Linked DNA regions of Homo sapiens: region 1 is linked to region 2. Evidence: fine-mapped expression QTL. A gene starts in region 2. The other region holds a variant in brackets. All regions are shown on one strand. Distances are between the middles of the regions.

The links.
Region 1: its variant is fine-mapped to the expression of SHANK2 in visceral fat (GTEx, PIP 0.92).

The regions. Positions count from the first base shown.
Region 1 is chr11:70,815,912-70,821,423 of GRCh38, reverse strand. SHANK2 (SH3 and multiple ankyrin repeat domains 2) reads left to right here. Exons shown (of 26, transcript NM_012309.5): 12 at 742-1,060. Among named protein-coding and RNA genes, the nearest start is that of SHANK2-AS3, 44 kb to the left of the region's middle. The variant T/C (reference allele first, on the strand shown) is at 2,748.
Region 2 is chr11:71,250,363-71,255,362 of GRCh38, reverse strand. It overlaps SHANK2 (SH3 and multiple ankyrin repeat domains 2), which reads left to right and starts at 2,786. Exons shown (of 26, transcript NM_012309.5): 1 at 2,786-2,938.

The sequences.
Region 1 (5,512 bases), 430 kb after region 2:
CAAAACAACCAGATATTTACACCTCCCAGTCCTGGGGACTACAAGTCTGAGATCAGGGCATCGCAGGGCTGGTTCCTCCTGAGGCCTCTCTTGATGGCTTGCAGGTGCCACCTTCTCCCTGTGTCCTCACGGGGTCATCCCTGTGTGTGTGTCTGTGTCCTCATCGCCTCTTCTTATAAGGACCCCAATCCTATGGGATCAGGGCCCCCACTAATGGCCCTCCACCCAGATGATCTCTGTAAAGACCTTACCTGCAAATATTGGCACATTTTGAAAACTGGGGTTTAGGACGTCAACACACGAACTTGGGGGACACAGTTCAGCCCACCCCAGAGGCTCAACTTAGGTTGTGGGGAGGAGGCATCTTGCGGCAGGCAGCTCAGTGCCCTCTCTGCTTTGTGTGATGGGGTGGCCCGTCCTTACACATGCCCAAGCCAGCCGGACGTCTCCCAGGCCAGATGGAAGCTCAGACCCCACGTCCCTTCCATGCGAAGTACTGGCTTGAGCTCCGTGCCGTGGAGATGTTCTCCGTCCCCAGCCTGTCTCTCTGCTTCCATGTCAGGGGTGAGTTCTGGGCCTGGTGGAGTCCAGCTGGGGTCTCGGCCCAGAACTCACAGCTCCCCTCTGCTGGGCTCGCATGGGGGCTTGGACGCACGCAGGCCTGCACCTCCCTAGGGTCCCCACCCAGCTGACCACGACACAGATGCACTCACCGGCCTCTCTCCATGTCCTTCTCCCCAGTGCCCTTCCGAGAGGCCCCGGCGTACTCCAACCGCCGGCGGCGGCCCCCCAACACGCTGGCCGCCCCCCGGGTCCTGCTGCGCTCCAACAGTGACAACAACCTCAATGCCAGCGCTCCCGACTGGGCCGTCTGCTCCACGGCCACCTCGCACCGCAGCCTGTCACCCCAGCTGCTGCAGCAGATGCCCAGCAAGCCCGAGGGGGCCGCGAAGACCATTGGGAGCTACGTGCCCGGGCCCCGCAGCCGGTCCCCATCGCTCAACAGGCTGGGCGGCGCAGGCGAGGACGGCAAGAGGCCGCAGCCTCTCTGGCATGTCGGGTAAGGAGTGGCAGACGCCAAGGGAAGGAAGACCGCCACGTGCTGGGGGTCCCAGCTCCTCCAACTTGGGGTGGCCCAGAAGTTGAGCAGGAAGCCCATTTTATTCCAACCCAGATGTTGAGGAAACTTTCATGCCTGAGTTTTGCTCACTGTCCCTGCTGGCACGGTCTCCCCTTGGGGGGCTGGGGTCACCTTCCCGAGCCTCATGGAGGCACACGATGAAAGCTCGGGGCAGGTGTGCAGGCTGAGCTGAGCATCCTGGGGTGGACTGGGGATACTGCTGGCCTCTCGGGTCCTGTTTCCTTTCCTTGTGTACTGACTTCTTGGTCCTAAGTGAAATGTCAAGAGGGAGAGAGGCAGGGCTGCAAGCCTGGTCAGGGGTGTGTGCCCTCCCGAGGGCCATGTTTGCAAGCCTGCAAACACACCTTATCCAAATTGAGGGTGCACACGTGGGTGGCAGGGAGAAACCCAGCCCAGAGGAGAATGCTGGGGGCCGGAGAGGCCGGCTCAGGGCTCTGGCGTCTGGCTGTCTCAGCAGCTGCAGGGATGGTCTCAGGTAGCGCTAACCCTCAGGGGAGCACTTGCAGGCCTGGGTCCAGCATGGCAGGAGCACAGAGGGCATGTCTGTCAGTCTCTGAAGCAGCCCCAGGTGACAGGAGCCTGTGCCTCGTTCCATTTCCTAGACAAGGACATGGGCAGCATAGGGCAGACTTTGGGAACTGCCTGTGGTCTCCTGCCCAGCACCCCATTCGGCGTCCAACTCCAGGTCTGGGTCTCTCCCCACCCTCCTGCCTCCCAAGCAGCCAGGGGAGCTGGATTTGCACTCAGAGCTCCAACTCCCAAGCAGGTCTCTGCCTTTCTCACGCCACCTCCCAGAATTTTCAGTCGAGGAAGAGACTTCCCAGGGATCAGCTCATTGTCGGGGCCCCAGGTGCTAGGGTTGGTGTCGGTTCCAGCCACGAAAGCTGCACCTGCAGGGGCAGTGGCCGTTGCCACCGATGCCTCCACATTCTCATGGGTACAGCTGCTCCAGGAGTTCACTGTGCTGGCTTCTTTGCTGCAGACGCCTCTATGAGGAGCCCGAGGTCACACAGCCAGAACGTAGCAAGGGCAGGACTCGGCACAGGCCCCTGGCTCTGGCATCTGGTGACTTGGCACTCCCTCAGATTTGGGCCTTGGACCCGTGCTTCCCCGGCCGTTGCCATGTTTTTGGTGATGTCGGCATTCAGTGCTGAGGCCCCTGACCCTCGCCCCCATCCTACATGCTTCCTGTTTCCTCCCTGGCCTCAAAGCCACTCGGGGTCCAGAGCCTGGCTGCGGGGAGTCTTGCAGGCCTGGGTCATGCTCTGTTGCCAGCTAAGGTCAGGGATGTCAGGGAGGAAGACCGCCACCACCCCTGCCCCCAGGGGCTCCACCTGGCAAGCTCCGTGTGAGTTTGAGGAGGGTCAGTGCCTCACGTGGTCCCAGGAGGGGCTGATCACCCTGACTATGACCAGCAGCCCAGGCTTTGGGGCCACAGCCAAGGAGTTTGTGGGGAGAACATGCCGGTGAGAGCCCACTTCTCCCGGCCCCTAGACAGGGTCGAGGCCTGATCCTCTTAGAGCTGGCAGACCCCACGTCCTCTCAACGCTTTGGCCTTTAGCCCACAGACGCTTCCCACCAGAGCCAAACAAGGAGGTCCAGCTGC[T/C]TCTGGTCTAGATTCCTGCTTGGAAGGACCCCAAGGGAGGAGTCCCAGGTGCTGAGAACAATGGGAAGCTAAATTAAAGGGCTCCCCCGAGGCAGCCAATTCCACTTCACACACTTAGCAAGACTTCTGACTACAGTTTTAAAAAGAGTGTGTCCCCTTCACCCAGTACAAAATCTAATAAGACAGCAAAGGCAGCGTGGCCAGGGACTTGAGCTGGCTGCAGACTAGATGTGCTAGATGTGGCTCGGGAAAGAGAGAAGCAGCCGGGTGTATTGCAGCTGCGGTCTGACCATCCCTGTTTCCCTGTTCATGTGTGAGGAACGGGGGACAGAATGCACATGTGTGTGTGCATGTGTGTATGTGTTTGTGTATGCCTGTGTATGTATGTGCATGCATTTTTGTGTTTTTTTGGTCTGTGTGCATTTGCCTGTGTGCATGCTGGTGTGTAGACATGCGCGTGCATGTTAGAGAGAGAATCATTGTGTATGTGTGTGTGTGTGGTCATCATGGTGGCCAGCCTGCCTCAAATGCTCATTGCCTGGCCTCCTGCATACACGCTTCTGTACTGTACCATTGTATAGCTGCATAACCTTGGGCAGGTAAAACCCAATCTGCCTAATCTTTGTCAATTATAAAACAAGGGACCAGGTGCGGTAGCTCACACCTGTAATCCTAGCACTTTGGGAGACCAAGGCAGGCAGATCACTTGAGGTCAGGAGTTTGAGACCAGCCTGGCTAACATGGTGAAACCCCATCTCTACTAAAAATACAAAAATTAGTTGAATGTGGTGGCGCATGCCTGTAATCCCAGCTACTCAGGAGACTGAGACAGGAGAATCGCTCTAACCTGGGAGGCGGAGGTTGCAGTGAGCTGAGATGGCACCACTGCACTCCGGCCTGAGTGACAGAGCGAGACTCCATCTCAAAAAAGGGTCCCAGAAAGACCAACTTCAGGTTTTTCTCAAGATCAGCTGAAGGCGTTCAGGGTGGCCGCCTCCCACAGCACCTTGTCCAGCCAGTGCGCATTCCACATTGGTTCTTAGAGCCCAGGTCCATGTCCAACCCAAGACCCAGAGCTCGGCCAAGACTGTCCCCTTTGTCACCTAGAACCGTTGGTAGAGTGACCAACCATTCAGGTTTGCCTGTGATGTGGGACTTTCAGTGCTAAAATCAGGACAGCCAGTCCCCCTAACTGTGGGCCACTGCCTGTCCCAAGTCGAGGGGCACTGCTCTTACCTGGTGGCCCTGACCCGTCAGTCCCTTCTTTCTTGGCCTTGTTCCATCTTCCCTTTCCCCACCCCTTCACAGCCTCCCTGTCCATATCCATCTGTCCAGGATTCAGCATCCTCAATGGTAGCAATAGCTGTGCTGTAGGAGGAACCCTCTGGATGGGCACTGATGAGCTGAGAGGTCCTTCCCTTAAGACCCGTGTCCTAACTAGGACCTGCCAGTGGCACTGACGTCCCCTCCTATGGGACAGCAGTGGTGAGCATTTGCCTTCGAGGCGACCAGGTGGGATGGAGAGTTGGAGGCAGGCATGCTTCTCCAGGCATCTTTTTGAGGTCCCCTGGGATGAGGGTGGGGCATGCAGGTGCCACTGTTGTGTTCTGTCCCTGCATAGGGCCATATGCATTCGGGGGGCAGAAGTGTCTTTGCACGGTGAGAGGCACAGAAGGGAGCCAGTTCACTGCACATTGTTTGCTTATGGAGCAGTTACCCAGGCCCATGCTGGGCGCAGGGACATTCAGGTGACATAGCCGGGGTGCAAAGGCTGGTGCCCTGAGCACACTTGGTCTGAATGTCCTGCAAACAAGGTACAGCCAGGGGAGGGGGGCCTGGCTAGAGCTGTCTGCTTCCTGGCTGTGGACCGAGGCCCCATTGTGGAAGTGGCCTTTATTGAGATAGGGAAACGCTCATTCGGCCAGCCCTGGTGATGCTGGATGGTGGATCACAGGACTGTGCAACCCAACCCAGGGCCTTTTGGAGGCTCCAGGAGGTGGCTGAGCCCCTCTGCTCCTTGTTCATCCTCGAAGCTCAAAGCTCAGCCCCATGCCTTGTGCGCCTGCCTTACTATTCCTGAAAAACCAGCTCTTTCCTAGGGCAACGGGCCCTGGCCATGTGGCACTAACGGGCCACTTTCAGGGAGGCTGCTAGCTCCCAGCCTCTGGGGGCCCTGGGTGACCCAGAGCTCTTTCTGGTTACCATCAGAAGCATAAGTGACAGCGTGCTCTCCCTGCCGTGGAGGGGAAAGCCCTCCCCACTTCCTCCTGTCTGAAGGGTGGAGCAGCTGCCCATCAGCCCATGCTGAGCAACCGGTGCTGAACATCCCCCAAGCAGTGCTGACCGCCAGGGCTACCTGGCTCTACCCACCCGCCAGCTGACCTTGGGCAAGTCACTTGCTGGTTCTGTGCCTCTGTTTTCTCCTGTGTAAAGTGGGGCTGATGACTTTCACCCCCTCCCGAGTGTGCTGGGTGGATTAAGTGGCTTTCAGCACCTGGCCTGCACTGACATCCACAGCTGCTCATAGACAGTCTTCGGTTCTGCAGAAACGTCGGCCACTCTTAGGGTCGTCTTCATCTTCATCCTTATTGTGGACAGTGTAGAAAGACCCCGCTGGCTGCCATGGGGCAGGGAGCACAGGGTATCAGGTGTTATTGTCCCGGTGGCAGAGGCCTGTGTGGGCTAAGAAGCAGGGGAAGCAGAGATGGCCAGGTAGGAGGAGGCCGACTGTCCTGGGCAGGGAGGCGACTGGCCAGGTCCCCTGT
Region 2 (5,000 bases):
CCAACTATTAATACATTAAGCCCCAAACCCAGGAGCTTCTCTGGGAGAAAGGGACTGCTGCTGAAGGCAGTGAGCATCTGGGTTAATCTAAGCCACAAAATATTTATAATGTTTTCCCCAGGACCAAAAAGGTGGCTATATCTCACATCCCTGATGGTATGGTGTCCCAGTTTCCAGTTCTCTATAAAACAGTTACTCTTCCCAGAAAGTCCTAGCGTGCTCAGGACCACACAGCGTGTACTCCACAGATGTGGCTGATGGTTTCATGGTTCAGGTTGGACAAGAAAAAAAGACAAGATGACCAGATGGAAAAGCTTACTCCTTTCTGCAAAACCTGGTGAATCCTGGAAGGCAGCTTCCAGAAACAAAACCGGAGGGTTCTGAAACCAGGAAGCCAGGAGGGTCATGTCTTCTTTTCCTAAACTGAACCTAAAACAAGGCACTTGGTGGTGTGTGTGGCTATGGGCCCCCCAGAAATTAGAATGCCAAAAGAGGTCCTACTTCAAATGAGCGGCGGGGGGTAGGTGTTCCCCTCAACCTGAGATGCCCGCTCAGAGCGTTAAGATGTGAATAAAGGCACTGTGGCAGCATTATCTGACCCTGAACCTTTTCATAAGAGCCTTTTTTTTTGGCTGTCAATACTTTTAGTTGACACATAATTGTACGTATTTATGGGTCCAGTGTGAGATGTTGATACACGTATGCAATGTGTAATGATCAAATTAGGGAAATTAGTGTATCCATCACCTGTAACCTTGATTTTCTTTGTTTTGGGATCATAAGAGATTTTTACAGACTTGAAGGATGTTGCTTCATCGGAGCACAAGGCTGAACTGGATATCTCTAAACAGACACAAAGAAACTGGGGCGTAAGCAGGATGCTGTCCTTAAAATGCCGAATGTCGGGGCTCTCACACAGCGCTCTTGTTGGCTAACAGATCAGAAAGACTGGAGGGGGATGGCCCAAGGGGTGTCCACTTGGGTGGAAGGCTGGCAGAGGCCTGCGTCCCTAGGGAAGTATTTCTTGGAGATAGCATAATGGCATCGGTCTTAAACCTTGCATGGAGATAGCCGAAAAATGTTCACAATTGAACTGTGACCAGCTGCCTGGTCTATCTGCAGCAGTGGTTCTAGAAACCTAGGAAGGGGTGTTCCAGGGGTGGGAATCTGGTGAGAGGAGGGAAATATCCTGAGGATAGGTCTTTGAGCTGGGTTTGCAGGGTAAATACACCACTTTATTCAGATGACTTGCCTTCTTTGGTGGGGAGGGTACTGATGGACTGTTATGGAAAGGTAGAGCCCCCACCCCCACTCCCTGCAACCCAGGTCTTGCATCTGCCACCGGCCAACCCAAAGAACATCCGATTGTCCTGCTCACACCTCTCCCAGGCACCCCAGCTTCCATGCCAAACAAAGGATGCCTGCAGGATCCTGTCAGGGCGTCCTTCTTCCTGTTTTGGGGATTATTATTTTTTGATTGATTGACTCCTTTATTCATTCAACAAATATTTTATCAAGTGTATGCTTAAGGAAGCAGCGACGAGAAAGACATTTACATAAGGCAGCTGCCCTCAAGGAGTTACAATATTTATTCCATGTGTGTCCTGAAATATTCAGGCCCCAAACACAACTTTTTTTTTTTTAACCTAAGTGCTTTTAAAGACTTCTTTGAAATGTGGGACAATTATGCAAGCTGAAAAAAAAAAGTATCTAGAGCAAATATTTAACTTTGCCTTTGGTATGTTGAAGTCACCAGCCCATGCAAACCTCTCAGGCATGTCCTGTAAGATAGACTGACTTACACACACACACACACACACACTCACTCTATGTAGGGGGCACAGTTAGGGGTTTGCATAATGCCGGGCTCCAGGGTTCTGGAGACAGTTCTACTCCACAGCTTGGACTCTGATCCCCACCCACACCTTCCAGAATACTGGAAAACTCAGAACACAGAGACCTCAAGAGCTTACTCAGAAACACGCAGCTCGTACTGGGGGAGACTCCCAGTGAATGATTAAGGCCTTGAGAAAATCTATCAGCCGATGGCTCACACGGCGGCCACAGCTCCAAGCTCAGGACCCGCCCCTTTGGGCTTCCGCAAACCTAGCAATCCGGAGTCCTGGATAATAACAGGATTCCTGGAGTCTCCGGAGGGTGCCTTTGGCCTCTGGGATTCACCCGAGCCGTTGGCTTTTGCTCCCCCCACCCCACCCCCTGGCTTTTCTTGGCTTGGAGGGCAGCTGGCGGAGATACCGTTGTGCACCCCTGGGCGGAAGGCGCCCCAGAACTGGTGGCCTGGGCAGCAGACGCCGGCGTATCACCCGGGTACAAAGTTTTCGTTTGCTCTGCAAACGTTTTGATGTGCAGGCAGCCTCTATTTCCAAATCCTATTATTATAAATACTCTGTGGCGGGAGCCAGCTGCGTTCGGGATAACCGTGCAGACCGAACCGGACTTTACAAAAATCAGGGACTTTCTCGTCCGCCGGCTTTGGCCAGGGAGGGGGAGGTCCGTGAGCCACGCAGCCCGGGGCGGGGCAGAGGCGGCCAGGGCGCCCCGCGGTCTCCCGGGGTTGCCACAACAGACCCCACGCGCACGCCCGAGCCGCAGCCGCGGGCGGGAGCGGGGTCGGGGCGGGGGACTGAGGTCCGCGGCGTGGGCGGGGGTGGGGGTCCAGGTCGGGTCGCCCGCGGGTCCTGGGCCGCACGCGTCCTTTCGGCGGCGAGAGGGCCCCTCCCCCACCCTCGCCGGAGCCAGCTCCCGCGCCGGGCGGGGCCGGGTCCTTCCCCACCCCCTGCACCTGAGCCGCGGCGGCGGCTCCTGAGCTCCGGCGGGGCTGGGCGCGGCGCCGCTCGGGTTCCCGCGGCCGATCCAGGTGTGCGCGGACGCTGGCGCTCCCGGGGGGCTCGGACCCGCCCCCGACTCGCCGAGCCAGGTGAGGCGGCGGCCGGGGACGCAGGGCGCGGGCCGGGGAGGACGGGAGGTGGCCCTTGGGCACCCGATCCTGCTCACTGACGGCATTTTGGGGGCATCTCGATTCCGGGAGCACCAACTACCGGGTAAGCGCAGTCCTGGACCCAGAGAGGCTGGAGAGGTGGGCGCTGGGGGGAGTGAGCCGCGTGTCCAGGTGGGGGTCGATTTTCCGTAGAGAGCCCTTCCCCCTGCATGCCTTTCTTCCCGGGCAGGGGCCGGTGTCGAAAGCTTTGGAAGCGGCGTGGGGGCAGAGCGCAGGAAGGAGCCCCCGCTTTATCTCCTGCGCGCATGGACCACGTAGTCTCTGGCGCGTCCTGCCCCTTCCTCTGGAACAGCGCGTGTGGCGCGACCTCCCCCGCTCTCCCGGGGTCTCCTTGCCCCGGGTCACCGCCCGCCAGCCCTAGGACCCGGGCCAGCGAGCCCAGCGGAGGAGCCGGCGCGGGGCCGCCAGGTGGCGCGCGGGGGCGGAGACCCGAACCGTGGCCGCCAGGTCCCCCGAGACCCCGCTGCGGTCACCCTGGCCCTGCACGCAGAGCTCCCATCCAGGCGCGCGCGGCGGCAGCAGCAGCTGTCGCGGAGAGGCCGGGGCCGGCGCGCCTGGTGCGGGCCCGGGGGTGGCGGGTCGGGCGCCCAGGTCCCGGGGGTCGCGCTGAGCCACAGCCGGGTGCCCGACCCCGGCCCGCCGTGCTCACCAGCTGGGATAGGGAGACCCGGCGGGCGCAGCCCGGCCGCCACCGTCCGTGAATTATGCAGGAAGCTGGCACCGGCGCGCTCGAGTTGATCAAGTTTCCCTGGCAACTTTCGCCCGGGCATCCCTCCTCCCCGGCGGCCGGGCAGCTCCGCCCGCCCAGCCCGCGGCCCAGGCGCCTCCACCGGGTGGCCCCGGCCCCGGGCGCCAGGCGCGGGGACCGCTCCCAGAGACGCCGACAGCGCACTCGTCACTTGGGCTGGAGCCGCCGGACTGAGCCAGCAGGTGCGACCACCGCAGCGGGCCTCGCCGCCCGGGTTCGGGGGGATGCGGGGGCTGGGGTGGACCTCGCCGCCAGGGTTCTGGGGCTTGGCGTGGGGGTGCAGCGCGGCGCCCTCCAGGCGGGTCTGCGTGCGGACACCCTGCTCGAGGTGGGTGGGCGCGTGGGCGAGGCTTGCCTTTCCGTGGGGCTGGAGCACCCAGAGGGAGAAAGGGTGGTGCAGGTGACCGTGGGTTTTCGCAGCCGATCTTTTAAAGGGGCTCGGGGCGCCTGGAACTGAGAAGGCGCTCGAGCCAGGCAGGTGAGGGGTGGGTGGTGGGGGGGTCAGGCGAAAGTACGTAAGGCTCTCGGGGGCTGGCAGCTGCTGGCAGGGGCCTGGGCGTCCTCAGAGGCCATCCGAAAATAAAGTGGTTTTCGGGTGGAAATTCGAGGTTGTAAATTGGATAGTTGAGTGACCTCTTTTTCGTTTGAAACTCAAGTTCGAACGTTAATGAGGCCAATCAGCTAATTAAGCTTCCAGATCCAGAGAGGTAATTTCGGAAGTCCCCCGGTGGGGGAGGGCGATTTGATCTCTATCTGGGATGTGGGCCTCGGTTTTGCCGACCCAGCCACAAGGGAAGTTCTGCGCCCCTGGAAAAGGACCTGGCAGATTCAGCCTTAACCCCGGTGCCCTGCGGTCCGCATCACATAGTTAGTGACGCCCTTCTGTGCACTAGGAACCGAGCCTGGTGCCCCAGAGGGTTCAGCAGGTCCAGAACAGCCCCGGGCCGATTGCTTTTGGAGTTTTCCAACTACTTGTGGGTTGGAAACAAGGTTGAGGGTCCTAATAGGGTTGAGCCTGTGGGGGTGGAGTGAGGAGAGCGAGCTCGGCCCCCATCTGGGTTCAGTGTTAATTCTGAGGGAAAGCCGTCGTGTCTGCTCTAAGAGGGGGATTGGTAGGTGGGAGCTGTGGGTTTCTATGCCGGATGTCACTGTCCTCTGAGGGGGCTTGAGGGAGACTCTTGTCCTGATAGGAATCTGGGTGTCCCAGTAGTGCCTGAATGATTCAGCTCCTGG